7 linked regions of the Homo sapiens genome follow. The protein of the gene in region 1 interacts with the protein of each later gene in a biochemical or structural test. Each region holds a gene or a part of one and is shown in the gene's direction. Other genes may lie near its edges.

Region 1 (4,041 bases):
GTCAGCCGGGCACATGCTGGCCCTCCCTCAAGTACCACTGAGTGCCTCCTGGGTGTAGGAAGAGGGCCATCTCTGCCCCGGTGGCCTCGAGGTGCAGATGGGTGGGGGGCACCCGGCACACGGGACATCGTGGCTGAGAGGACGTCAGGCCAGGTGCCAGGAGGGTCCCAGGAGGGCCTCCTGCCTCCAGGTGGGGATGTTCAGCCTCCACTTCTTCGAGTGTGACTGTCTGTCTCCTCTCTCTCACTTGCCAGCTTCCTCACCTGCCCCCTCCCGGCTGTCTGGTGGGCTGGGTGGCTAGGGACAGAGGCCTCATGTCACCTGGCACCAAGCAGCACCCACGCCCAGCCGGCTTCGGCCCAGAAGCAGAGCCTTGGGAAGCACCTGTCTCAGAGCTGGGGACTGGAGGCACTGGGGGCACAGCTGCACCCGGAGTCCGAGGGGTCGGGGAAAGGAGGCAACCCCGGGGCAGGGGGCTCTGGTACCCGTGCGAAGGCGCTAGTGGGCTTTGGGTCTCCCTGTGACCCCAATCTAAAGCCCACCAGACCTAGAGGAGACCCCCGCCGCACGGCTCCCCAGGGCACTGTTTGAGGGGTGGGTGGGAACCCCACACCCTCGGGTGGCTTTTCCAGTTTTCCTTGTCTGGCTGGGCTTGGCCTCAGTTTCCTCAAATGCAGACCAGGGAGAGGAGTGCCTGAGTCTCCCAGAACGGCGCCCAAGCCGGCCTGCCCCTCCCCACGCACTCAAGGGTCTCTGTCCAGGGCCCACAGGCGACCCAGCAAGGGCTCCTGTGACCTTTAGAAACACCCTTTCGTCGTGGAAGTCTTCAAACCTCACAGAAAGCAAGGAGGCGCTGGCCGTGGCGGCCTCTCCCGTCTCCCAGGCCCGCGTCCACCCTCCCCGCGCCGGTGCCCTCCGGACAGAGGTGGAAGCCGCGGCGCAGGAGAGGCGGCTCCGGCCGGGCAGCGGGGCCCGGTGACCTTGGGCGCGTCCTTACACGTCGCGGGCCTCAGTTTCCCCTCCTGGGGAGAGGCCCGCGCGGGGCTCCGAGGCCTCGGGCCGCGTGACCTTGGGGCGCCCCCGACCCCGCGGCCCGAGTTTCCCGGCGCCGAGCGGAGGCGGCGCGCGGGGAGGGGGCGCAGCCGAGGCGGGTCTCCCGCCCCCGCCCCTCCCCCGCCCCTCCCCCGCCGCGAGGCTCCGCCCCCCGCGGCTCCGCCCCGCCCCGCCCCCGCCTCCCCCCTCCCTCGGGCTCCGGCCGGCGGCGGCGGCGGCGGCTCCGCTCCGCACTGCCCGGCGCCGCCTCGCCATGGACGCGCGCGGGGGCGGCGGGCGGCCCGGGGAGAGCCCGGGCGCGACCCCCGCGCCGGGGCCGCCGCCGCCGCCGCCGCCCGCGCCCCCCCAACAGCAGCCGCCGCCGCCGCCGCCGCCCGCGCCCCCCCCGGGCCCCGGGCCCGCGCCCCCCCAGCACCCGCCCCGGGCCGAGGCGTTGCCCCCGGAGGCGGCGGATGAGGGCGGCCCGCGGGGCCGGCTCCGCAGCCGCGACAGCTCGTGCGGCCGCCCCGGCACCCCGGGCGCGGCGAGCACGGCCAAGGGCAGCCCGAACGGCGAGTGCGGGCGCGGCGAGCCGCAGTGCAGCCCCGCGGGGCCCGAGGGCCCGGCGCGGGGGCCCAAGGTGTCGTTCTCGTGCCGCGGGGCGGCCTCGGGGCCCGCGCCGGGGCCGGGGCCGGCGGAGGAGGCGGGCAGCGAGGAGGCGGGCCCGGCGGGGGAGCCGCGCGGCAGCCAGGCCAGCTTCATGCAGCGCCAGTTCGGCGCGCTCCTGCAGCCGGGCGTCAACAAGTTCTCGCTGCGGATGTTCGGCAGCCAGAAGGCCGTGGAGCGCGAGCAGGAGCGCGTCAAGTCGGCGGGGGCCTGGATCATCCACCCGTACAGCGACTTCAGGTACCGCCTCCGGGAGGGCCGGTCGGCGCGAGGGGGCCCGGGGAGCCGGGCGCGCGGGGAGCCGTCCTTGGAGCGCCTGGGGAGGGCGGGGCGGCGCGCCGGGCCGGTGACCTCGGGGCTCCTCGGTGACCTCGGGCGTGTCCGGGACCCGCCCCGGAGTGACCCCGGCGCGCGAGGCTCCGCCTCTGGGGGGGCTCCCCGGGTGACCGCGGAGCGCCCCCCTCCCACGCACCCCGACATCCTCCGCCCTGCGGCGCGGCGGGTGGGGTGGGCCGCAGGGCCAGGGTCTGAGCGCAGAGGGGCAGAGAGGACGAATAGAGGGGAACGTGGGCCCCAGAGAGGCGGCGGAGCGGGAGGGAGGAGGAACGAAGGGCGCCCGGGAAGGACGCGCCCCAGGGAGGCCGGGGGAGAGGGGGTTAAGCGGCTCCCACGGCGTCCACCCGCGCCCCGCCTGCGAGGAGGCGCGCCCGGGGCCGCGGGCCTGGAAAGCGTGCGGGTCCCCAGGCTGTGTCCCCGGGAGCCGCTCCACCCGAGCCGCGGGCGGTGCGCGCATGCGGCGGTGGGTGTGTAGACGCCGCTGTGGATCCAGCCGGCTAATGCGTGGAAGGCTCGGAGCAGGGCCGGCGCGGGGCCACCGCCACTGATGTTTGCGGTCGTGGTTCCTGGGCTGTGCGTGCTGTGGCCGGAGAGCGAGACCGGCGCGTGTCCCCGTGGGCTGTGTGTGAACAGGGGCCCGTGACCGCGGCGGGGTTCCCGGGGCGCGAGCCTGTGGCCGGAGAGGTGTGTCTCCAGGAGTGTGTTTGCGTGGTGGTCGCGGGCGTGTGCGCCTCCGGTGGGTTTATTTTGGTGGGACGTGTGGTTTGTGTGTGTTGGGACCAGGTGGCGGGCGTGCGCGTGTACGCCCGGGGCCGGTGTGCACCGGTGGGCAGTAGTGTGAGCCGCAGGCAGGTCTCACACACGCGACCATGGAGGGATGCGTGTGTGTTTGTGTATCCACGAGTGGGGTGTGAGGTGGGGTGTGGAGGGTGCAGGTGGAGGGTGTAGGTGGGGCCCGCCGGGCTAGCGAGGCCGGGCGCGCGGGACGGGCGCGGTTTCAGCACCACGGACAGCGCGCCGGACCTGGGAAGCCTGCGGTTTTCCCGCCTGTCTCTCCTCCTCCAGGCCTGGGCGCCCCAGGACAGCCCCCACGGACCCTGGACCCCCGGAACTGGGCAGGGAGGCTGTGGGGTTCTCTCTTCCCCTGGATTCTCTGCACCCCTAGTGCTTGACTGGAGAAACTGAGGCCTGGGGCACATGCGTCCTGGACAGAGCCTGGAGGAAGGCCCTGGAATCCTCCTCCCACCCCAGGCCTTCCTGAGAGGTGAATACAGCTTTGACCAGAAGCCTGGATTTCGAGACAGGCCAGGGGTGGGAGGAGCCCCGAAATCCCCAGAGGGGCTGTGTCCGGCCCCTCCCACCCTGCCTCTGTGCCCCACCGGGAGAGCTTGGTCAGCATCTGGGCTCTGGCCTGCGAAATGTGGACAGTGAGCGGGAAGGACTGGACTTCCAGGGCTGCTGGTCGGCCTGGCCCCACTTCCAGTCGGGCAGTGGCACCCCCTGACCGGAGAGGGACGCGGTGGAGAGGGAGCTGTAGAACGTGCCCACTCCCCTCCGTCCCCTCCAGCATGACCTTCGACAGAGATGGGTGCACCGCAGCGTGGGGGCTGGCAGGTGGAGGCCCACACCAGCCACTCCCTCCCCTGGGCAGCTCCAGCGACCCCCTGGCTGCAGAGGGGCGGTCGGTGGCCTGGGGGGCAGGTGGGCAGATGGCTGATCCCGGGGCTTGGGGGGAAGGCCGGTGGTAGGAGTGAAGCCCTCTCATCCTTCCACCCTCCTTGGGCGTGGTCGCCTGGAGGCCTGGGCAGGCTGTGGCCCCGCTCTGTGCTCTGAGGCATAGAGGGCTCAGAGGCCCCTGTGTGGACCAAGTGCAGCCCCACCCCGGCAGATGAGTGTTGAAGTGGAACTGAGCAGGCAGGGAATGGGGTTAGCGGGGCCTGTCTTCGGGACTAGGGGAGTCACGGCAGTCAGATTTTAAAAAAGGATTTCGATGTTGCCAAGCTGGGT
Region 2 (3,500 bases), on another chromosome or scaffold:
CTAGCCACGGAGTATCTTGGTATATTTTTATTTAAATTTACTCTGATACTTAAACTCCTTTCCTGTCTATAAAGCCCAGTCAGCATCGAGCCCCAAGAAGTTCCCTATTTCTAGCCATTTGAGTGACCTGGGGGATGTGGAGGAGGACTCCTCACCAGCACAGAAGCCAGGCAAGCTCTCCGACATGTACCCCTCCACGGTGCCCAGTGTGGACAGTGCTGTGGATTCATGGGATGGGTCTGCAATAGACACCAGCTATGGAACTCAAGGTATGTCTTTACTTTGTCCCCCAGAGGACTTGTCATTGTTGAAGCCCATGCTTCTCCAAGATTCATCCTCTGCTCCATGAGGAGAATATCTTTCTTTAACTTGTGTCTGCTTTGGTGCAGCCATAATCATATTGAACACATTGAATACTTACACTCTGCTGGCCATGCATTTTCTTCTAGTGCTTATAAGGCATGAACCTTTACCAAACACTAACAGGCCTCCATTAGGTCTACTGATGGCCAAGTATCCCATCCAGGGCTTGTCCTTCAAGCTTAGATTAATGTGAGGCAAACCATACAATAAAGTGGCTCGTTCAATACAGGCCCCATTGCCTTATTTTTCAGCAAGCTTTCCACAAAGATGGATTGGGGAGTTTGGAAGAGGTGCATAAGAGATTAGCCAATGATTTGTGACTCTATTTATTCCTGCACACTCCTGACTTTTTTTTTTCTTTTAGAGACTGGGTCTCACTCTGTCACCCCAGCTAGAATACCCTGGCACCATCATAGTTCATTATAGTCTCAAACTCCTGGACTCAAGGGATCTTGCTGCCTCAGTCTCCTCAGTAGCTGAGACTATGTGCACACACCACCACACCCAGCTGATTTTTAAATTTTTGTAGATACGGGGTCTTGTCATGTTCTCCAGGCTGGTATCAAACTTCTGGCCTCCAGCAATCCTCCCATCTTGGCCTCCCAAAGTGCTAGGATAATAGGCATGAGCCACCATGCCCTTTCCCTGAATGTTTATAATTAGAGCACTATAATCACAATATAGGAAAGTATAGAGTAGATTTTTCTTCATAGGTGTCATCGTCATGTGAAGAAATACTATCTACATTAAAAAGCCTCACTCATGGAATATAAACACATAAAAGGTGTCAGACTGAATACAGAGCATAAACTAATAGCTTCTTTTAAAAAATATTTTCTTCCCAGTGATCCGTAGCATCAACAAGAGAAGTATGTCAAAACTTCTTGGTATTTCTCCTCATCTGAGCCTTACCTTCTCTCATGTTCTATGTAAATTCCAGCCTCTGAATCCCTTGTTTGCTCTGGGTTTCAGTCAGTCAAATAATAAAACACATAAACAGTTTAGAGAACACATTGGTGTGAGGGCTGCTTTGTCACTGAGTTAACTGTACTTTTTAGGAGTGTCTGTATCCAGTTTGCTCTCTCCTGGTTTTCCTAGTTTCCTTCTCTCAGCCTGCCTATGTTGTGTCACTCTCTGTTAAGTCCTCTGGTGAACAAAAAACAAAAATGGAAGGGAGAAAAAACTGGAAAAAAAAATGAAAGGAGATGATATTTCAAAGTTGTCAAGTTGTTACTTTCATTAGAGATGATACTGGAGTTAGGTGGGGAAAATACTTTGAACACCTAAGTAGAATTGGGGCTTTATCTGGCAATTAATTTTTCCAAGTCATAATACCTTGTGACAAGTTCACCTATGCCACCAAATAACAGACCTTCTGATTGCCTGAGAATTGATGGGCCACCAGAAGACACTGAGTAAAGGACAGAAGTCACATTCTATCAGAGTAGACTCAGGTTTATTTATCAATTTATTGTGTATTGGTTATTTATTTGTGTATTTTTTGTGTATTGCTTATTAATGTAGAGATATTTTTGTTACCAGAGATTTTTGTGAGGGTGCTATTGATATTAATTAGTTCTTCCCTGTAAGGTGATCTGTAAGACCTTAGCTACTCCATCCCTTGAAACCACAGACACAGGACCATGAGAAGCAAACTGAATATAGGACCTGCCCCTCACTAGTAAAAGATGAAAAACCATTTACTATTTGTGAAGCATTTTGAAATTTTGAATCATAGTCATAATATTACATTTTGCATTTATAATTTAGACATTTTTATGAGGTTGAAGGGAACTGAGGGATAAGTAGAGACAATGGCAATCAGGATAGAATCGAAGTACTCCAAGGTAATGAAAAAATAGTAATAACCCTTTATATATATAGAACACTCTAGAGTTTACAAAGCACTTTCACATAACTAATCCCCATTAATTCTTGTGACGAACATGGGAGCTGAAGGCAGGATTTCAGGTTTGGAAAGGGTTTAGGAGTCAGCTAGTCTGATGTCCAGTGCAGCCCTTGGTGCCAGGTCCTGCCTCACTGCACGCCAAGACACGCTGCATGGACTTGAATGCCCAAGGTGACAGGTTGTTCCTTGTGCTGAGGCAGCCCCCCATCTCCACGTAGCTCTGATGACTCTAAAGCTCTCACTTGTATTGAGCTGCAGTATGCCTAATAGTCCCGGCTATACCCTCAAGGTCATTCTGCACTAGACTAAAGCCTCTTCTCCTGACAGCCCCTTAGATACTCGAAGACAGCTATTGGGTCTCTGTTGAGGCTTTCCTTCTCCAAGCAAAATAGCCCCAGTTCCTTTAACTGTGTCTTCTATAATTTACTGACGAGTATCTGTATCGTCCTGTGGACCTCCCTTACGAATGTGCTTCAGTTTACCTGTGTACCCGTTAAAGTGTAACATTCAGAAAGGAAAATCACACAACAGCCCGACAGCCCGGAGCAAAGCAAGCTGGTCACTGGCATCATTGAAGACAGGAGAACTGATCAATGACACCTACCTCAACATAAGAATTTTAGTGGTCATGGCACATCTGTCACTCATTTTGCGCTTACAGTTTACCGAGATCTCAAAGTCTTGTGAATGTGTTTTTTTTTCTTTACCCGTGATATTCAGTTAAACTGCATCTCTCCAGATTGTGCTTGTGAGGTTGACTTTTTAAAAGCAAGGCACAGCTGGGTGCAGTGGCTCAGGCCTATATTCCCAGCACTTTGGGAGGCTGAGGTGGGCAAATCACCTGAGGTCAGGAGTTCAAGACCAGCCTGAGCAACGTGGCGAAACCCCATCTCTACTAAAAATACAAAAACTAGCCAGGCGTGGTGGCACACACCTGTAATCCCAGCTACTCGGGAGGCTGAGGCAGGAGAATCGCTTGAACCAGGAGGCGGAGATTGCAGTGAGCCAAGATCATGCCACTGCACTCCAGCCTGGGCAATAGAACAAGACTACGTCTCAAAAAAAATTAAAACAAAAATAAAAGCAAGGCATAGAACCACACTTTTATTTTTCCTATTCAATATTATGTTGTGAGATACAGCTTATCTCTCCAACCTGTCCCTCCAGCCTCTCAGCAGGCTCTCTGCCTTGTTCCAGGAAGCCCCTGCACATTCTCTCTGTTCCCTTT
Region 3 (3,500 bases), on another chromosome or scaffold:
ACCCAACTAAGGATAAGTTTCTTCTTTAATAAAGCATTACTCTTGTGATTAAAAGGATTCTGTAATTGTCAATGACTGAAGAAAATATTTCATAGGAATTTTATATCTTTATTTCTACAAAATATTATTAACATATCAGGTACTTTAATATGGTTTTTGCATTTTACTTATTTATAATTCTGTTTTAAAATAGGCTGAAAGATACAGAACTATGGGCCAGGCGTGGTGGCTCACGCATGTAATCCCAGCACTTTGGGAGGCCTAGGTGGGCGGATCACCTGAGGTCAAGAGTTCGAGACCAGCCTGGCCAACATGGTGAAACCTTGTCTCTACTGAAAATACAAAAAAAATTAGCTGGGTGTGGTGGCACATGCCTGTAGTCGCAGCTACTCAGGGAGGCTGAGGCAAAAGAATTGCTTGAACCCAGGAGGCGGAGGTTGCAGTGAGCCAAGATCGCGCCATTGCACTCCAGCCTGGGCGACAGAGGGAGACTACATCTCAAAAAAAAAAACCACATAGCACTATGATTTCAAAATGTCTTGTTCTTTGTGCTACATTTCAATTTTACTTGCTTTGTAACTGTAAGGCTGATGCTCTTTAATTTGATACATACCTTTCAATTTTATAAACACATGTTAAACACTTTTAGGTGATAGAAGCTATAGGAGAAGGGTAGAATTGGTCAGAGTCTTTATTTGCACACTTTTATTTGAACCAGTTTAAAATTAGTGTAAATGCTGGGCCAGCATGCTCAGTTGTCACAGACCCCAACACTCCCCATGCTTCATACTTGTGTATTACCTTCTTGGCCACCTCTGTGAGAGACTCACAGAAGGGAGATGGATAGAAACAACCACAAGAAATTCTATTGTGATCTGGTGACAGATCCTTGCTTCAATGGCTTAACCTCTAAGGTGCGGTTGGCAGTATGGGGAGGCAGGAAGGTATAGTGTGCAGGCCCATAGCAAGGTGCTGGGCGCGAGGACTTGAATAGTGACATTAAGGACTCATTTGCATCTTGGCTTTGCTCTGGACAGGCCCTGATGAAAACAAACAAAAGGGTCAGTGGCATCTTACTATAAACTTCTCTGTTTTTTCTTTCTTTCTTTCTTTCTTTCTTTCTTTTTTTTTTTTTTCTTTTTCTGTTTTTCCTTCCTAATAGGTGAACACACAGGATTTCAGAGGATTAGTGCGGGAGGATGCCGTTCTCTACCTGTTAGAAATCCCTAAAGGTGAAATGGTGACCATTTTAGCTCAGAGCCGAGCCGATGGTGAGCAAATTTGGTCATTTAGTTTAGTTGGGGTGGGGGTGGGGAGTGGGAAGGATGAGAGAGGTGTCTTGGTACCAGAATAGGCAAATCTGGGTATTAAAAAATTGAGATGGATCTCAACACCTAGTCCTTGGGCCCTAGGTGTGTGAAGAAAATGTGAGTGCCGTTTAACTTTCCATAAAAATGTTTTCTATGCATGCACTGAAATAATTTTACTAGTTGTGTCAATTTGGAATAAAACTGCCTTCCTGAACAGTGATGCAGCCTTATGTTCTGCCTGGAGTTATTAGTGAGTTTACATACGACATGTGCAAAGGCCATGGCTGCTGGCTGGTGCGCCTGTTACCCCTGTCCAGTCTGACAAGTTGTTTCACCTTTCCAGGCCTTGTTCCCATCTGTTAAGTGGGTGTTGAGAGTGTCCTCCTTGTCTGCTTCAGAGCTTGATTGGCAACTGTGTTAATGTTCTCCAGAGAAACAGAATGATAGGAGATATTGGAATCAATAGGAAAGAAAGAGATTTATTATAAAGAATTGGCTCACATAATTATGGAGACTGGCAAGTGCCAAGATCTGCAGTGAAAATGGGCAAGATAGAGACTCAGGAGAGCCAGTGATTTAGTTCTAGTCTCAGTCTGAAGGCCTGAGAACCAGGAGAGCCAATGGTGTAGTTCCAGTACCAAGTCAGGGAAAAGAGCTGATGTCGCCTTTTGAAGGCCATCAGGCAGGAAGAGTAGTTTCCTCCTAATTTTTTATTTATTTATTTATTTATTTATTTATTTATTATTATTTTTTTGAGACGGAGTCTGGCTTTGTCGCTGAGGCTGGAGTGCAGTGGAGCAATCTTGGCTCACTGCAAGCTCTGCCTCCCAGGTTCACCCCATTCTCCTGCCTCAGCCTCCCGAGTAGCTGGGACTACAGGCGCCCACCACCACGCCCGGCTAATTTTTTGTATTTTTAGTAGAGACGGGGTTTCACTGTGTTAGCCAGGATGGTCTCGATCTCCTGACCTTGTGATCCACCCACCTTGGCCTCCCAAAGTGCTGGGATTATAGGCATGAGCCACCACGCCCAGCCTAGTTTCCTCTTAATTGAGAAGGGGTCTGATTGTCATTCTCTTCAGGCCCTCAACTGATTGGATGAGGCCCACTCGCATTGGGGAGGGCGATCTTCTTTGCTCAGTCTACCCATTTATACGTGACTGTCATTCAAAAACACCCTCAGAGAAAGGCATAGAATAAAGTCTGACCAAATACCTGGTTATTTCATGGCCCAGTCAAGTTGAAATAAAATTAACCATTGCAGCAAGCCGTGAAGCTGGTTATTTGTCCTTGTTCCTGTTGGAGCTGTGACTCCCATAGGACTTGTGCACTGAATGGAAGGAAGGTAAAGGGGAGATCAGAGATAGGAGAAGCTGTGTTGAGTGTCTAGTACTGTAACTTGTACTAAGCTGAATGCAACAAACGATGCTTTTGTCTTTCAGTGTATAGAGACATCCTGGCTTGTGGCAGAGGGGATTCGTTTTTTATAAGAAGCCACTTTGAATGTGAGAAGGAAACTCCACAGAGCCTGGCCTTCACCAGAGGGGAGGTCTTCCGAGTGGTAGACACACTGTATGACGGCAAGCTGGGCAACTGGCTGGCTGTGAGGATTGGGAACGAGTTGGAGAAAGGCTTAATCCCCAACAAGAGCAGGTAACAGAGATCGCATTCTCACATACCCCTTTTAATCCTTCCCCCTGCAGAAAACTAGAGACCGCCCCCCTTCCCCCGTAAAAGGAAACCCCACATGATGAGTTCATTACTTGTCACCATCTATTTCTTGTTTATGGAGAGTGGCCTGAACTGTAAATAGCCACCAGCCAGTTTATTGTGAGTAAATTTAGCATCATGTGGTTGGTTGCTGAATGTGGCTGTTTGAACAACTTCCTAAGGAGCATCCACTGCCTTGTACCGTATACAAGAGATATACTGAATGGCCGTAGCACACCAGCACACCTCTTAGAGACAAGGTACCCTTGTCCGGTGCCCAGTCTCCATCCTTGGAGAGGTTTATGCACCCCAGTGAACACTTGGTGTTTGGCTGACAGTGCAGGAACCTAGAAAAGAGGCCTGTATTTGAGCAGGAGTTCCAGGTGTGTGTACTGTGTACCTGCATATCAGAATGGGCCAAATTTCACATGTTTATTGCTGAGCCACTTCTGGGAGATTTCACAGAGACCCAGCCTTTTTC
Region 4 (3,500 bases), on another chromosome or scaffold:
TCCACGGAGCCCACCCCAGAGGCTGGTACAGGTCAGGTGGGGTGGGAGGAAGGGAGGGCTAGGAGGAACCGGCAGCCGCTCAGCCTCCCGGGGTGGAAGGAGGGGACTCCGGGACCTTGATGTAAGCAGGCTGGTCGCTGAGCAACAATGAAGGCCTTTCTCTGCCAGGGCTGGTGCGTCACCATCTGGGGGGGTGCCCAGGGTACCCCCATGCCAGCCTCTTTGTCCGGACACAGGCATGGCTGGGGGACCAGGGATGGTCCAGCTCTGTGCTGGCCGCCGGCAGGGAGGGAGCCTGGAGCCCGTGGGAGCCCGAGGGCCTGGCGGGAGGCGGCAGGAAGTGTGTGCTGAGCCAGGGCAGGGAGGAGGAATGTGAGCTATGAACGCCGCCCGAGCTCCTCGGCTCTCTGGGCCCCCCTTCCCCACGAGCCCATGTGCTGCCAGCAGCCCACCCTGGCCCCTCCATTGCAGCCCCTCCACCTGAGGTTTTAGTGCTGTGCCTGGCGCCACTGGGACCCTGCTGACAATGAAGGGGTTTAGGTTTGATAGGCAGAACTTCTTGCCTTGTAGAGTGAAAGACGGCTGCTTCTGGACAGAGGCAGAGGGGTGGCCAGAATGACCCTGAGAACACTGAGGGGTCCTTGGCCTGGCCTCAGGGCCCCAGACACCCACCAGATCCTGCTTCCTGTCTGGTGCCCTGAGAAACCCTGCCCCGCAGGCCGCTGTGCAGGCGTGGGAAGGGCTGCCGGGCCAGCACTGTGGGGCTGGCCGCATGTGTGGGCTGCTGTGCGTGTTTGCAGGTGTGTGTGGACGTCTTGTGTCTGTGGCTGTGTGATGTGTCTTTGCGGACTGGGCCCATATCACGCTCCCACCTCCTCCACTGAATTGGGCTCCTGTCCCCACGCCTTCCCTGCGTCCCAGGCCAGCCTGGGGGCCGTGCTCCACCTCCCCTCCCGAACTGGACTCCTGTCCCCACGCCTTCCCTCCGTCCCAGGCCAGCCTGGGGGCCGTGCTCCACCTCCCCTCCCGAACTGGACTCCTGTCCCCACGCCTTCCCTCCGTCCCAGGCCAGCCTGGGGGCCGTGCTCCACCTCCCCTCCCGAACTGGACTCCTGTCCCCACGCCTTCCCTCCGTCCCAGGCCAGCCTGGGGGCCGTGCTCCACCTCCCCTCCCGAACTGGGCTCCTGTCCCCACGCCTTCCCTCCGTCCCAGGCCAGCCTGGGGGCCGTGCTCCACCTCCCCTCCCGAACTGGACTCCTGTCCCCACGCCTTCCCTCCGTCCCAGGCCAGCCTGGGGGCCGTGCTCCACCTCCCCTCCCGAACTGGGCTCCTGTCCCCACGCCTTCCCTCCGTCCCAGGCCAGCCTGGGGGCTGTGCTCCACTTCCCCTCCCGAACTGGACTCCTGTCCCCACGCCTTCCCTGCGTCCCAGGCCAGCCTGGGGGCCGTGCTGTGACTGCATCCCTGAGGGGCACTTTGGTGGGCAGGTGTCAGGGTCAGCCTTGAAGCCCCACGCCTGTGCCACCAGGTGTGTCTGGGGGAGGAGTGAGTCTATGTGGTGGGGCCCTGGAGATTTTGGGGGTCTTGCACCCTCTAATTCAGCCCATGTGGCCCAGCTGAGCCCCTGTGGGGCCAGGGAGCCACAGGCTTGTCCCTGGAGTTTCTGGTGTGACGGGCTGGGTGGTGGCCATGCAGAGAGGGTTCAGAGGGTGGGCAGGAGGCTTCAGATGAGGCATCTGGCAGGCTGGACAGGAGAAGGGTGTTCCAGACCAAGGGCAGGTCCTGAGCCCAGGGGACAGAGCACTAGCTGTGTGGAGAAGGACCCCCTTGCTCCCTTGGCGGGGCGGTCCCCCCCGCTGACATGGCCGTTTCTGGTCCATTGGGGTTTGGAGCGAGCTTGAAGGTGGGTGGCTGGAGGGGTTGGGGGTGTCTGAGGCCTGGAGACCTGCCCTCCTGAGGTCTGAGCGCCCCCTTGCCATGCCGCCCCAGCCCTGGCCTGGCCTGGCCTGTGGTCCCTCAGGGACACACAGGGAGGTAGGAGGTGAGGGAAGGGCCCTGGCAGCCCCCAGCCCGCCTGCACAGTCTCCCCTGCGCACGCCCTCAAGCTTGGCGCTCCCTGGAAACCTGAGCTGCCTCCTGCCTGCTCCGGCCACCGCCATGTTTAACTGAGCACGGGCAGCCGCTGGCCACCGCCGCCGCACCCTGGCCCACCCCCTGGCTGGGAGGTGGTCATTGGGCCTGGCCTTGCCTGCATGGTCCCCTGGCCCAGAGCCCTACCGCAGGATGCCAGAGGTAACATGGGGCAGGGCCTGGGATGGTAGCGGGGGGTCCTTCCGGGCACCAGGAGGCCCTCTGTGCCCTGTCCACACTAAGCTCCTGCCCCAGCCCCTGCTTGCTGGGCCCACGGGGGTGGGGCGGCTCATTTTCCTGGAATGTGAAAGCAAACAGAGCCGCCACCGCAGCCAGCCCCACGGAGGCCTCTGGAGAGAAAACAAAACTGCTGGCCTAGGAGCGCCTGCCCCACGCTCTGGAGGAGAGCCCGGGGCAGGGGGACGCACAGGCAGAGCCCTCAGGGACAACCGCCCCAGGAGGCCAACGGCGACAGTTCATCCCACCTGGTGCTTCCTCCCACCCTGCCTGTGCGCCACGCTGGCCTCGAGCCAAAGGAATTCTCCCAGCAACCCGGGAAGGCGGCTGGGCCCGTCGGGGAGGCTTCTGGGTTTGAAAACAGGCTTTGCCCAAGTTCCCACAGCTAAAGCTCTGTCACAGGCAGCCTGGGTGCCCGGAGTGTTTGCCACTGAGACCTGGGCCTGCCCGTGGGGGGCACGGTACCGAGTTTGGGCAGTGGCGGCACCACCGGGGAGTGGCCTCTGGAGGCGGGAGGCTGGAGCAAGAGACTGACCCTGTCCGTTGGGCCTGCAGGATGTCAGTGGGCCCCTGAGGGAGCTGCGCCCTCGGCTCTGCCACCTGCGAAAGGGACCTCAGGGCTATGGGTTCAACCTGCATAGTGACAAGTCCCGGCCCGGCCAGTACATCCGCTCTGTGGACCCGGGCTCACCTGCCGCCCGCTCTGGCCTCCGCGCCCAGGACCGGCTCATTGAGGTACCGGCCCACCAGGGCTGCGGGGTGCCGAGTGCCCCGCACCTGTCCACACTGGGGCCCTGGGTCCTTGCAGGGAGGAGGGAGACGCTGGGAACCTGAGCTGGTGCGCCTCCTGCTGCCTCGGTGGGCGGTGGCTGTGATGAATATTTGATGCCACACCTGGCCACGCGGCGTTGGGGGCTGTCTGGGCCCATGGCGGGGCTGATACATGCTGGTGGCGGCAGGTGAACGGGCAGAATGTGGAGGGACTGCGCCATGCTGAGGTGGTGGCCAGCATCAAGGCACGGGAGGACGAGGCCCGGCTGCTGGTCGTGGACCCCGAGACAGATGAACACTTCAAGCGGCTTCGGGTCACACCCACCGAGGAGCACGTGGAAGGTGGGCCACGGCCCAGGGCA
Region 5 (3,500 bases), on another chromosome or scaffold:
ACTAAAAATACAAAAAGTTAGCCGGGCGCGGTGGCGGGCGCCTGTAGTCCCAGCTACACTGGAGGCTGAGGCGGAAGAATGGCGTGAACCTGGGAGGTGGAGCTTGCAGTGAGCCGAGATCCCGCCACTGCACTCCAGCCTGGGTGACAGAGCGAGACTCCGTCTCAGAAAAAAAAATAAAATAAAATAAATAAATAAATATATATATATATAACTATAAAATATATAAAAACATTAAAATAAAAACATAAAGCATTAAAAATAAATCTTAAAATATGTAAATAGCTAGGCATGGTGTCACGTGCCTATGGTCCCAGCCACTTGGGAGGCTGAGGTGGGAGGATCACTTGAGCAGGAGTTTGAGGCTGCAGTGAACCAAGATAACATCACTGCAGTCACTCTGGCCTGGGCCATACAGCAAGACTCCTAGCTCTAAAAATAAAAATAAAAGACAAAAAGAAATTAAAACGGTGAGGGAGCCTGGCCTTGGCTGTGAGGACCATGCTGCCTCGGGGTGACATCCCGCCAAGCTCACCCAATAACGACGCTCTCGTGTGGTTGCTTCGCTCCCGGGTACCCGTGTTAATTGGGGCTGTTTGCTGTGAAGTGTTCGTTTTATTGATTTCTCTACCCACTGAGTGCCACTTGCCATTTATCAACCCGGCGAGGGGCCTCCCGGTCCACCGTCCCCCACCCCGCTGGCCCTGGCTGGCCCTGCTCAGGGAAAGGGAAGCCACACAGCCCTGGCTGGATCTCAAAGGAGGCCTTGGGGCGGCTTCCCGGGCTGGCCCTTTGGACGTTGGAGTGGCCAGGCCAGGGTACAAGAAAAGGCACAAGGGACAAGGGACAGGCTGCCCGTTTCTGGGAGCTGTTTCCTCGGGCTGCCTGGGGGTGGCTTCATCAGAACCCCGGGCTTCTGTGTGGCTCTGCCACTCCAGCCACAGAGGGACTGAGAAAGCAGAACTGAGGCCAAGTCGTCCCTCCCAGTGCTCCTGGGAGACACCCAAGGCCTTGGCCGCTGGTCCTGGTGTCTCGTGGGTGCCTGCCGGCACTTGCTTTCCTTGCCCTCGCCCTCCCCTCCGCTGGGCTGTACCCAGTCCCTACCCTTCCTCCAAGAAGCCCTCCTTGATCGTCTGACAAGGCAAACTTTCCCTCCAGAGCTCAGCCAAGGTTCCTGCATTTGTCACACACTCTGCCTGCCCCCCACCACACCTCCCCTCCCTGGCACACAAGCCCCAAGCAGTGCCAGCCCGAGGTGACCTCAGACACTGGATGCCCGGGGCAGCAGCCAGGCCTTCACACTGACGGTGGCTTCCAGGACCCAGCCCAGGGGCCCCGTCCTCCGTGGAAGGTCTTCGGAGCCCCAGGGGTCTGACCGCCACCCTCTCCTGCCCCTGCCAGAGCTGGACCCTGAGAGCGAGCTGGGCAAGAACCTCAGCCTCATCCCCTACAGCCTGGTACGCGCCTTCTACTGCGAGCGCCGCCGGCCCGTGCTCTTCACACCCACCGTGCTGGCCAAGACGCTGGTGCAGAGGCTGCTCAACTCGGGAGGTGCCATGGAGTTCACCATCTGCAAGTCAGGTGAGCGGCGAGCCACGGCCACCTGGGGAGCCCCGCGGGAGCCATGAACCAGGACGACTTCCCCTCTTCTCTTCCCTCCTCCCCTCTTCTCTTCCCTCCTCCCCTCTTCTCTTCCCTCTTTCCTCCTCTTCCCTCTTTCCTTTCCTTCCTCCTCCCTTCTCCCTCTTCTCTTCTCCCTCCTCCAACTTCTCACTCCTCCCCTCCCCCTCCTCACTTCCCTCCTCCCCTTTCCTCCCCTCCTTTTCTTCTTCCTCATCCTCCCCTCCCTCCTCCCTCTTCTTCCCTCCTCCTCCTCCCCATCACCCCTCCTCCCCCTGGATAGGTGGATGGATGGATGGAAGGATGGCTGAATGGATGATGGGTGACTGGGTGGGTGGACAGATTGATAGATAAATGGGTGGGTGGATGGATGGATGGAAGGATGGGTGGGTGGATGGGTGAGTGGGTGGATGGATTGGTGGATGGATGGATGGATGGATGGATGGATGGATGGATGGATGGATAGGTGGGTGGATGGATGGATGAGTGGATGGATGGATGGATGGATGGATGGATGGATGGATGGATAAGGGGATGGGTGGATGGGTGGATAGGTAGGTGGACAGATGGGTGGGTGGGTGAGGGGTCGGTAGATGGGTGGGTGGATGGATGGGTAGGTGGGTGGGTGGGTGGAACAGGAGATTTATTTAGACTGGTGATCAGCCTTGCACCACGGTGCCTGAGCTGCTTTGTCCAGTGAAAGGTATTGCTGAGGTGCCAAGCACCTGCTCTATGGGCTGCCATGGGGAGTATGGAGAAGGTTAACCTTAGCCCTGCCCTCAAGGAGCTTCACAGTCTAGTCGAGGGGAGACGAGATTCATTTAAACATGGCTGGAAGGGGATCGGACATCGAGTTCTGTAGAGCCCAGAAGGTGGCAGGCAGGGCCTGAGTGGGATGGTCAACCCAAGGCCACCTCGTGCTGCCCTCAGGACTGGCCCCTCTCTCTGCAGATATCGTCACAAGAGATGAGTTCCTCAGAAGGCAGAAGACGGAGACCATCATCTACTCCCGAGAGAAGAACCCCAACGCGTTCGAATGCATCGCCCCTGCCAACATTGAAGCTGTGGCCGCCAAGGTGAGGCGGGGACTGGGAGGTTGGATGGGGCCAGGACCCTCCGTGATGATCCTCATGAGGCCACCTGGGCCAGGGACAAGGGTGGGATGAAGAGTTGTTTTCACCTCCCCGTGGCCAGACCTCTCCTTTTCCCCTTGTCCCAGCAGCTGCCCCGTGTTAACTCCCTCTCTGCACCCTTGTTCCCTGGGCTCTGAAGTGAGTTTTTATTTTGGAGCTTTCTATTTGTGTTGGCTTCCTGGAGCTGGTGTGTGTTCGCATTATTTAGGAGTGTGTGTGTCTGGTTGTGATAACAAGGGCCAGAGATAGAGAACGAGCTCATCAGGGCGAGAGACAGGATGAACATGAAGGTGACAGGTATTGCATTCACCAAACGAGGGGAAAACGGGGCATCACAAGGGTTATTGGCAACGATGCAAAAAGGTTGTCTGTGTGCAATGTGGAGTCTTTGGAGCCAGACAATGTGACCTAAGCGTTGAGCTCTTCCTCGTCCCAGCACTGGATGAAGAAAAGGCTCTCTGTCCGCGTCACTGGAGGGCTCCCCCAGCTGCCGGGGGCTGGCTCCGTGGTGGACGCTGACCTTGGGGATGGCAAGAGCAGATGGTGGTGTTTTTGTTTTTTTTAAGTCTGGGCCACAGCAGTTTAGGAAATTCTGATAGCTGGCGTGGATAGAAAGTGAGCAGACAGGGTTGGAGCTGAGATTGTTTTTAGCTGAAAAGAAGAAGCCTTCCAGCAGATCTGTGCTGTAGAAATGTGGGCCATGGTCCTATTGGTGGGGAATGGGGAGCAGTGGCCCCGCAGGAGGCC
Region 6 (3,500 bases), on another chromosome or scaffold:
CCGGGACCGGCACACGGTGGGCCAGCGGACCCCCTCCAGCAAGCCCAGCATCAGCCTCTCAGCCCCCGACATCCTGCCTCTACACTGCACCATCCGCCGGCAACCGCTCCCGGACAGCGGCCAGGCCGCGGGGAGGCTGGTCCTGGAGCCCATCCCCGGGGCGCACATCTCCGTCAACTTCTCCGAGGTGGGGCACAGGACCGTGGTGCTGCACCACGGGGACCTGCTCTCCCTGGGGCTCTACTACCTGCTGCTATTCAAGGACCCCGCGCAGGCCCAGCCCCTGCCCGCCCGGGCCTTGGCGCGCCTCCGGGCTGTGCCGCAGAGCTGCCGGCTGTGCGGGGCCGCGCTCGGGGCCCGGGGAGCCGCCTCCCCTACTCAGGCCGCCCTGCCCCGGCGCCAGCAGCTGCTCCTGGAGTTTGAGCCCCACCTGGAGGACACGCTGCTGCAGAGGATCATGACGTTGATCGAGCCGGGGGGCGACGACCACAAGCTGACCCCCGCCTTCCTCCTGTGCCTCTGCATCCAGCACTCGGCCACCCACTTCCAGCCGGGCACATTCGGGCAGCTCCTGCTCAAGATAGCCAGGCTGATCCGCGAGACTGTCTGGGTCAGTGTGCTGGGGTGGGCGGTCTGGGTCCTGTGCCGGTCTGGGGGAAGAGGGGGCCCGGAGCTGGCCCCGGCTGGGAGGCGGGAGCGCCTCTATCTGACCCCCACGGTGCTGTGCTGCTGAGCGCAGGGCGGCCTTTCCCTGCCTGTCGCTGCCCCCCAGCCCCACAGGCCACCAGAAGCAGCCCCAGAACCCAAGGTGTCAGCTGCAGCCCTTTGCCCCTGAGGGTGGGGTTTGCGTGGGGTCCTAGGTCACCTCCTGAGCTCTGGGCTTGTACCCTCCCTGGGGTCCAGCTGGGCCCAGCACTGTCACGTGCCAGGAGTGAGCTGCCCCTGAGCCTGGGCACCACGAGGCCGAGGTGACATTGATAGCTCTCACAGGCCCCTGCCCAAGAGCCCCAGAAGCCCCTGTGTGTGCCGGCGCCCTGTGCTTGCTGCCAGGGGCCGGTTGAGCACATACCCGCTGGAGCCATCCCTGATCCGAGTTTGGAGGTGCAGGGCCCGTCACCTTTTGTGCGTTGACGAACTTTCCTCCAGGCCAGCCTCTCTCATCCCCGGCCCTGTGGACACTGTGGCAGGAGAGCTCCTTGCTGTGAGGCTGGCCTGTGCATTGCAGAGGATTCAGCAGCATCCCCGGCCTCCACCCCTAGATGCCGGTCACCCTCTGCCGCCCCGCCACACACACACACGCAATACACCCATGGCTGCAGGCATTGCCAATGTCCCCAGGAATCCAGTGTGGCCGCCAGTGAGCAGGACCGCCCTGGGCCCATGAGTGCTGGAACAGGCATCACACAGTCATGGCCCCCCGCTGGGCCCCACCCCACAGTGACTTGGCTCCCAGGGACCCGAAGGACAACTCGTAGTTGTTCAAGTTCGTTCAGAGACCCTCAGATCCTCGCTAGTCTGGGCCCCGCTTATCCCCGGCAGACAGGGGAAGGGGGAACCACTTGACTGTGTAGAAACCTTATCACTTTCTCATATCGAAATCCACATTTTAAATGTCTGAGACTTTTAAAAAGTAAAAGCCAGCTCAGGCTTCCCTGTCCAGATGTCAGTGGGAGCCGTCTCTGTGCACCGTGGGTGTTGTAATCTGGGTGTCCGTGCCTCTTCCCCTCGGGTTCCCGGCTTGGGATTTGATGGGAGTGCCACTGCAGCGTGCCCGTGTCCCCTCCGTGCAGTCATGGACACAGGGCCAGGTGATGTCCCTGTAGTGTGTGTCCACATCGTGGCCACTGTGACCGAGAGTTACCTGCTGGCCAGAAGTCATGGGTTTTCGCACGATCATTGTCATTTCCCGAGTCTCCTCTGCGCCAGGCACTTACTTGCAAACCAAACGCTGTTTAATTTCTTTATCACAACCACCCTGACGATGTAGATGCCACACCCCATGTCACAGCCAGGGAAACTGAAGCCAGGGGGCCGTAAGTCACTTGCTGAGGGACCCGGGTCCCAGCCTGTGTCCCAGCCACCTGGGGCTCGCTGTGTGGCTGGCCCACTCCCTGCAGCACACCAGGGCTCACCCTGCCCCTATGCTACAGGCTCTGAAACAGAGGCTCCCAGAGGTGAATTGCCTGGTCCAGAGATTGAGCTGATAGACATGAGACCGAGCCTGAGTCCACCTCTTCCCCCTGCACCCACTGTGGGAATCCGAAGCCTCCGCTGGGTGCTGTCCAGATCCCATGCGAATATCATTTGCGCGTTTGTTTCCTGAGAATGTGCAACTGTGTCGCCGCTGCCCCGTCCTCATTCCTTACCAAATATACACGCTTAGTCTACGCGCACTCAGCCATCACGGTTACATTCAGCCGGATAATAACTTACTACTAAGGCAAGAATAATTCTTTTTTTTTTTTTTTTTTTTTTGCTGAGACGGAGTCTCGCTCTGTCACCCAGGCTGTAGTGCGGTGGCGTGATCTCGTCTCACTGCAACCTCTGCCTCCCAGGTTCAAGGGATTCTCCTGCCTCAGCCTCCCAAATAGCTGGGATTATAGGCATGCGCCACCACACCCGGCTAATTTTTGTATTTTTAGTAGAGATGGGGTTTCACCATGTTGTCCAGGCTGGTCTCGAATTCCTGACCTTAAGTGATCTGCCTGCCTCAGCCTCCCAAAGTGCTGGGATTCCAGGTGTGAGCCACCTTGCCCAGCCTCTACTATTTTTTAAATAGCCGGTTGTTATGTAAGCTAGAGAGTTGTGAGATACTCTATTGTAGCAAACTTGTAGGTCATAGTCGGTAATGGAATGGGAAGATGTTGAAGTCACATGGAAAATGTCCTTTCCAGCACAGCTTGAATAAATAGTCAGCGTCACACAGGATGCCTGGGGCAGCATGGCTTGTTTTCCTGTCGATGGTATCGTGTATTTGAACGCGTCCCTGTGTTAGCCTGTTTTGCTCACTTGCTTTTTCTCCCGCTTTGTAATTGTAGGAGAAAACCAAAGAACTAGCAGAGAAGCAGGCGCAACTGTGAGTATGACCCGGTTATTGTGCCCGCCTCTGGGCAGCAGGTCCTGGGGGCTCACACTTCCCGGGGGAGCCAAGTCCCGAGGGGTCTCCCCACGCCTTGGGGTCAGCTCTGGGCTTTGTCCTTCCATCCAAGCAGCGGCCTTTTTTGCTTCTTTAGTCATCACCCTGGGAAGCTCTGAGTTTTGGGAAATTGCTTCAGGGCACCCTTAAGACTGGATGGGTGAGGTCTTCTTTTTTTGTTTGTTTTTGTTTTGTTTTGTTTTGTTTGCTCTATCGCCAGGCTGGAGTGCAGTGGTGCAATCTCTGCTCACAGCAACCTACACCTCCCAGGTTCAAGGGATTCTCTTGCCTCAGCTTCCCGAGTAGCTGGGACTGCAGGTGTGCACCACCATGCCTGGCTAATTTTTTTTTTTTTGTACTTTTA
Region 7 (3,500 bases), on another chromosome or scaffold:
CACCTTTCTGAAATTTTTTAAAGGCAAAAGTTATAATATACTGTACTTCCTCAGTTCTGATTAGTTATCTATTATAGTACCATTTACTTAAATCATATCCTTTAAGGAAAAGTATAAAAACACTCCTTTAAATGTATATAGCCACTATGAAGTATACTGAGATCTACAACTTACTTTGAAATGAATTTTTTAAAAAAAGATGAGTGATGAATAGATAAATGGCTATGTGATAAAGGAAATATAGCAAAATACTCATTGTGAAATCTAGGTGCTATTTATATGGATGTCTATTGTATAATTCTTTCAGCTTTTCTATATATTTGAAGGTTTTCATATTTTAGGAATTAAAATATTAAACAACTTTCATCATAGAGTTAAGAAAATGGACCAAATTATAATTTATGAACTGATAACAGTGATCTTAGGCTTAGCTTAAAATTTTGATGCAGAATAATTTGGTAGAAAAAAATATTCATTATTTGCAATGTTTTCGTCTACATAAGAAAGGCCCTTCACTATGTATACAGTTTTTGTTGAACAGCCACTAGCCTTAAAAGACTACACAGTATTAACCTCACATATTCATTTAAATGAATAAAGGGACAGGTAATGGAGATCTAGCAGATTGGACTAAATTATTACTGATTCTAGGAAAATCTTTGAGAAAAAAATGTTATATATCCCTAAAACAAGTCTTTTTCCCTTCAGATTTGGTGCTTTTTTCCCCACAATTGAGGGTTCTATTTTGGCAGGTTTCTGCTAATCAAGGTCTTATTATACTTGTTTTAGCAAAATACATAATACATTTTGGGTAATAAAGTTGACTGTAACCCCAAATGAAACATAGTGCCCATTAGCTGACTATATATACATAAACACTATGTGGCAACCTAGGAAAATGGTTTTGATTTTATGTGGAGCAAGAACAGCTGAAATGATTCTATGGTCTCCACCTTGGTGATTGAAACCATATACAAAAGCACACATAATGGAGAAAGCAATGGAGGAAATGTCTAAATGGGATTGGGTTGAGGTAGTAAGAGAATAGTGTGGGTGATTTTTGTTTTCTTTCCTGGCCTCCTCACGATTTTCTGTTAGATGGTTATGGTGACATCAGTAATTGGCACACTAATGGATAAGTATGCATTTAGGGGGTCAAGTCAGTGTCTGCACACAGGTGACCCCTGGGTCTTTCTTTCAGGGTAGTCAGCAGAGTGCACACAGCAGCTGTCATCCCTCCTTCGCTCCTGTCATCACTGGCCTGCAAAACCTGGTTGGCACAAAAAGAGTTTCAGATCCTTCCCAGAAAAATTCAGGTATTACACGGACACACCCAGAGCAAAACTATCCTGTTACCCAAATTAAAAAAAAAAAATGTGTTTTTTAAAAACCAGTCTTCTTTAATATAAATGTTTTTTAATTTTTTGAGCTTGGCCACATAAGCTGAGCTTTCTGAAAGGCATGTTCTGAAGGTAGGAAAGCCATAGAGATTCCTTCAGTGGTGGCCAGGCATGGTGGCTCACACCTGTAATCCCAGCACTTTGGGACGGCTGTGGCGGGCGGATCACCTGAGGTCAGGAGATCGAGACCATCCTGGCTAACCCCGTGAAACCCCGTCTCTATTAAAATACAAAAAAAAATTAGCCGGGCGTGGTGGCATACGCCTGTAGTCCCAGCTACTCAGGAGGCTGAGGCAGGAGAATTGCTTGAAACTGGCGGGGGTGGTGGAGGTTGCAGTGAGCCAAGATCGTGCCACTGCACTCCAGCCTGGGTGACAGAGCAAGACTCCGTCTCCAGAAAAAAAAAAAGAAATTCCTTCAGTGGCACAACACAAAGCACCTGAAAAACAGAAAAGCAGAAAGCTGGAGTGCATGGTAAAATAAAATTACTTACAAAGAGAAAATTAATAAATTACAGGTCACTGGAGAAAGGTCAGAAGTGTGTATACCTTCTATGGGAAAATTGGGCCAGTTAAAAGAAAAAAAAAAGTGTGTATATCCTTGGGGGCAGGGTGGGACAAGGGGTCCTTTTAAGTCTTTTGTTGAATGGAGGGTTATCTTTGATTAAGGTAGAAAAAAATGTACAATGAAACACAAATGACTCAGCCGGGCCCGGTGGCTCATGCCTGTAATCTTAGCACTTTGGGAGGCCAAGGCAGGCGGATCACCTGAGGTCAGGAGTTTGAGAGCAGCCTGGCCAACATGGAGAAACCTCGCCTGTACTAAAAATACAAAAATTAGCCGGGCATGGTGGCACATGCCTATAATCCCAGCTACTTGGGAGGCTGAGGCAGGAGAATCGCTTGAACCCAAGAGGCAGAGATGGCAGTGAGCTAAGATCGGACCACTGCACTCCAGCCTGGGCGACAGAGTGAGACTCCATCTAAAAAAAAAAAAAAAAAAAAAACCACACACACACACAAAAATGAGTCATCCTCCAAGCATTTACTCACCATGTTCCAGGCAGCTGCTGCTATATAGCCCATCCACTTTTGTCAGACCAAATGGTTATGGCCACATTGATCTCAAACAGAGAGCACTTCTTTAAAATAGAGGACACAGCAGGCCGGGCACGGTGGCTCACGCCTGTAATCCCAACACTTTGGGAGGCCGAGGCAGGTGGATCACTTGAGGTCGAGAGTTTGAGACCAGCCTGGCCAACATGGTGAAACCCCGTCTCTACTAAAAATACAAAAATTAGCCGGGCGTGGTGGCAGGCACCTGTAATCCCAGCTATTTGGAGGCAGAGGCAGAAGAATTGCTTGAATCTGGGAGGCAGAGGTTGCAGTGAGCTGAGATGGTGCCACTGCACTCCAGCCTGGGTGACAAAGCGAGACTCTGTGTCAAAAAAAAAAAAAAGAGGACATGGCCCCTGGTGACTTGGCTACCAGCTTGGATGCTGAGGAAGGGTACAATACCTGCTTGCTTTAGTGTCTTCTCTTGAAAGACCTAGAAAATGAAACCATTTTTCATGGGGCAATATTATATGCTAAATATATTATTTTTTAATATTAAAAAGTTAATTGTGTTGCTTCTTTATAGGCACAGATATGGAACCAAGGACTGTTGAGATAAACAGGGTAAGTCAGTCATTTTGCTGTATGTATTTTTCTGGTTTGTGTTGGATTTGCACTAAATGTACATTTTCCCCAATACAGTTTATTGGATTGTGAGTGTGCTCTTTCAAGTTACTGAGATAAAAATATGGTCTAAATAACATCAATAAATAGACTTAGAAAAGTACAGTAGAGCACAGAGATGACCTCTATGAATTTTTTGGCAAATCTCATCCACTATATTCTGTGCTATGTGTAAGTTTTATTTTTATTTATTTATTTTTTCAATCTTAGTCTTTTAACCTGTACATGTAAAGTTTTATAAAACAAAAATGGTATCATGTGGCACATACTAAATAAGTATTTTTTGAGAGCATATAGTATGATTTTTATCGATTTCATAGTACTCCATCTTATGAATGTGCTATAAGTTTCTTTTTTTTTT

Evidence for each region.
Region 2: the proteins of HCN2 (region 1) and GRIP1 interact in a test that uses a peptide from one of them, tested with the Homo sapiens proteins (one large-scale study listed by IntAct).
Region 3: the proteins of HCN2 (region 1) and TJP2 interact in a test that uses a peptide from one of them, tested with the Homo sapiens proteins (one large-scale study listed by IntAct).
Region 4: the proteins of HCN2 (region 1) and NHERF2 interact in a test that uses a peptide from one of them, tested with the Homo sapiens proteins (one large-scale study listed by IntAct).
Region 5: the proteins of HCN2 (region 1) and CARD11 interact in a test that uses a peptide from one of them, tested with the Homo sapiens proteins (one large-scale study listed by IntAct).
Region 6: the proteins of HCN2 (region 1) and RADIL interact in a test that uses a peptide from one of them, tested with the Homo sapiens proteins (one large-scale study listed by IntAct).
Region 7: the proteins of HCN2 (region 1) and PATJ interact in a test that uses a peptide from one of them, tested with the Homo sapiens proteins (one large-scale study listed by IntAct).

The regions. Positions count from the first base shown.
Region 1 is NC_000019.10:588,640-592,680, forward strand, and holds the start of HCN2 (potassium/sodium hyperpolarization-activated cyclic nucleotide-gated channel 2), read left to right. Parts: upstream 1-1,241; 5' UTR 1,242-1,306; coding exon 1,307-1,938; intron 1,939-4,041. UniProt on the Homo sapiens protein: Hyperpolarization-activated ion channel that is permeable to sodium and potassium ions. Displays lower selectivity for K(+) over Na(+) ions. Contributes to the native pacemaker currents in heart (If) and in neurons (Ih).
Region 2 is NC_000012.12:66,389,077-66,392,576, reverse strand, and holds part of GRIP1 (glutamate receptor-interacting protein 1), read left to right. Parts: intron 1-74; coding exon 75-269; intron 270-3,500. UniProt on the Homo sapiens protein: May play a role as a localized scaffold for the assembly of a multiprotein signaling complex and as mediator of the trafficking of its binding partners at specific subcellular location in neurons.
Region 3 is NC_000009.12:69,233,277-69,236,776, forward strand, and holds part of TJP2 (tight junction protein 2), read left to right. Parts: intron 1-1,162; coding exon 1,163-1,271; intron 1,272-2,751; coding exon 2,752-2,962; intron 2,963-3,500. UniProt on the Homo sapiens protein: Plays a role in tight junctions and adherens junctions. Acts as a positive regulator of RANKL-induced osteoclast differentiation, potentially via mediating downstream transcriptional activity.
Region 4 is NC_000016.10:2,033,402-2,036,901, forward strand, and holds part of NHERF2 (Na(+)/H(+) exchange regulatory cofactor NHE-RF2), read left to right. Parts: coding exon of another isoform or gene 1-31; intron 32-187; exon of another isoform or gene 188-2,283; coding exon of another isoform or gene 2,284-2,292; intron 2,293-2,922; coding exon 2,923-3,102; intron 3,103-3,326; coding exon 3,327-3,480; intron 3,481-3,500.
Region 5 is NC_000007.14:2,911,368-2,914,867, reverse strand, and holds part of CARD11 (caspase recruitment domain-containing protein 11), read left to right. Parts: intron 1-1,401; coding exon 1,402-1,581; intron 1,582-2,571; coding exon 2,572-2,696; intron 2,697-3,500. UniProt on the Homo sapiens protein: Adapter protein that plays a key role in adaptive immune response by transducing the activation of NF-kappa-B downstream of T-cell receptor (TCR) and B-cell receptor (BCR) engagement.
Region 6 is NC_000007.14:4,831,717-4,835,216, reverse strand, and holds part of RADIL (ras-associating and dilute domain-containing protein), read left to right. Parts: coding exon 1-610; intron 611-3,038; coding exon 3,039-3,076; intron 3,077-3,500. UniProt on the Homo sapiens protein: Downstream effector of Rap required for cell adhesion and migration of neural crest precursors during development.
Region 7 is NC_000001.11:62,119,980-62,123,479, forward strand, and holds part of PATJ (inaD-like protein), read left to right. Parts: intron 1-1,201; coding exon 1,202-1,316; intron 1,317-3,041; coding exon 3,042-3,079; intron 3,080-3,500.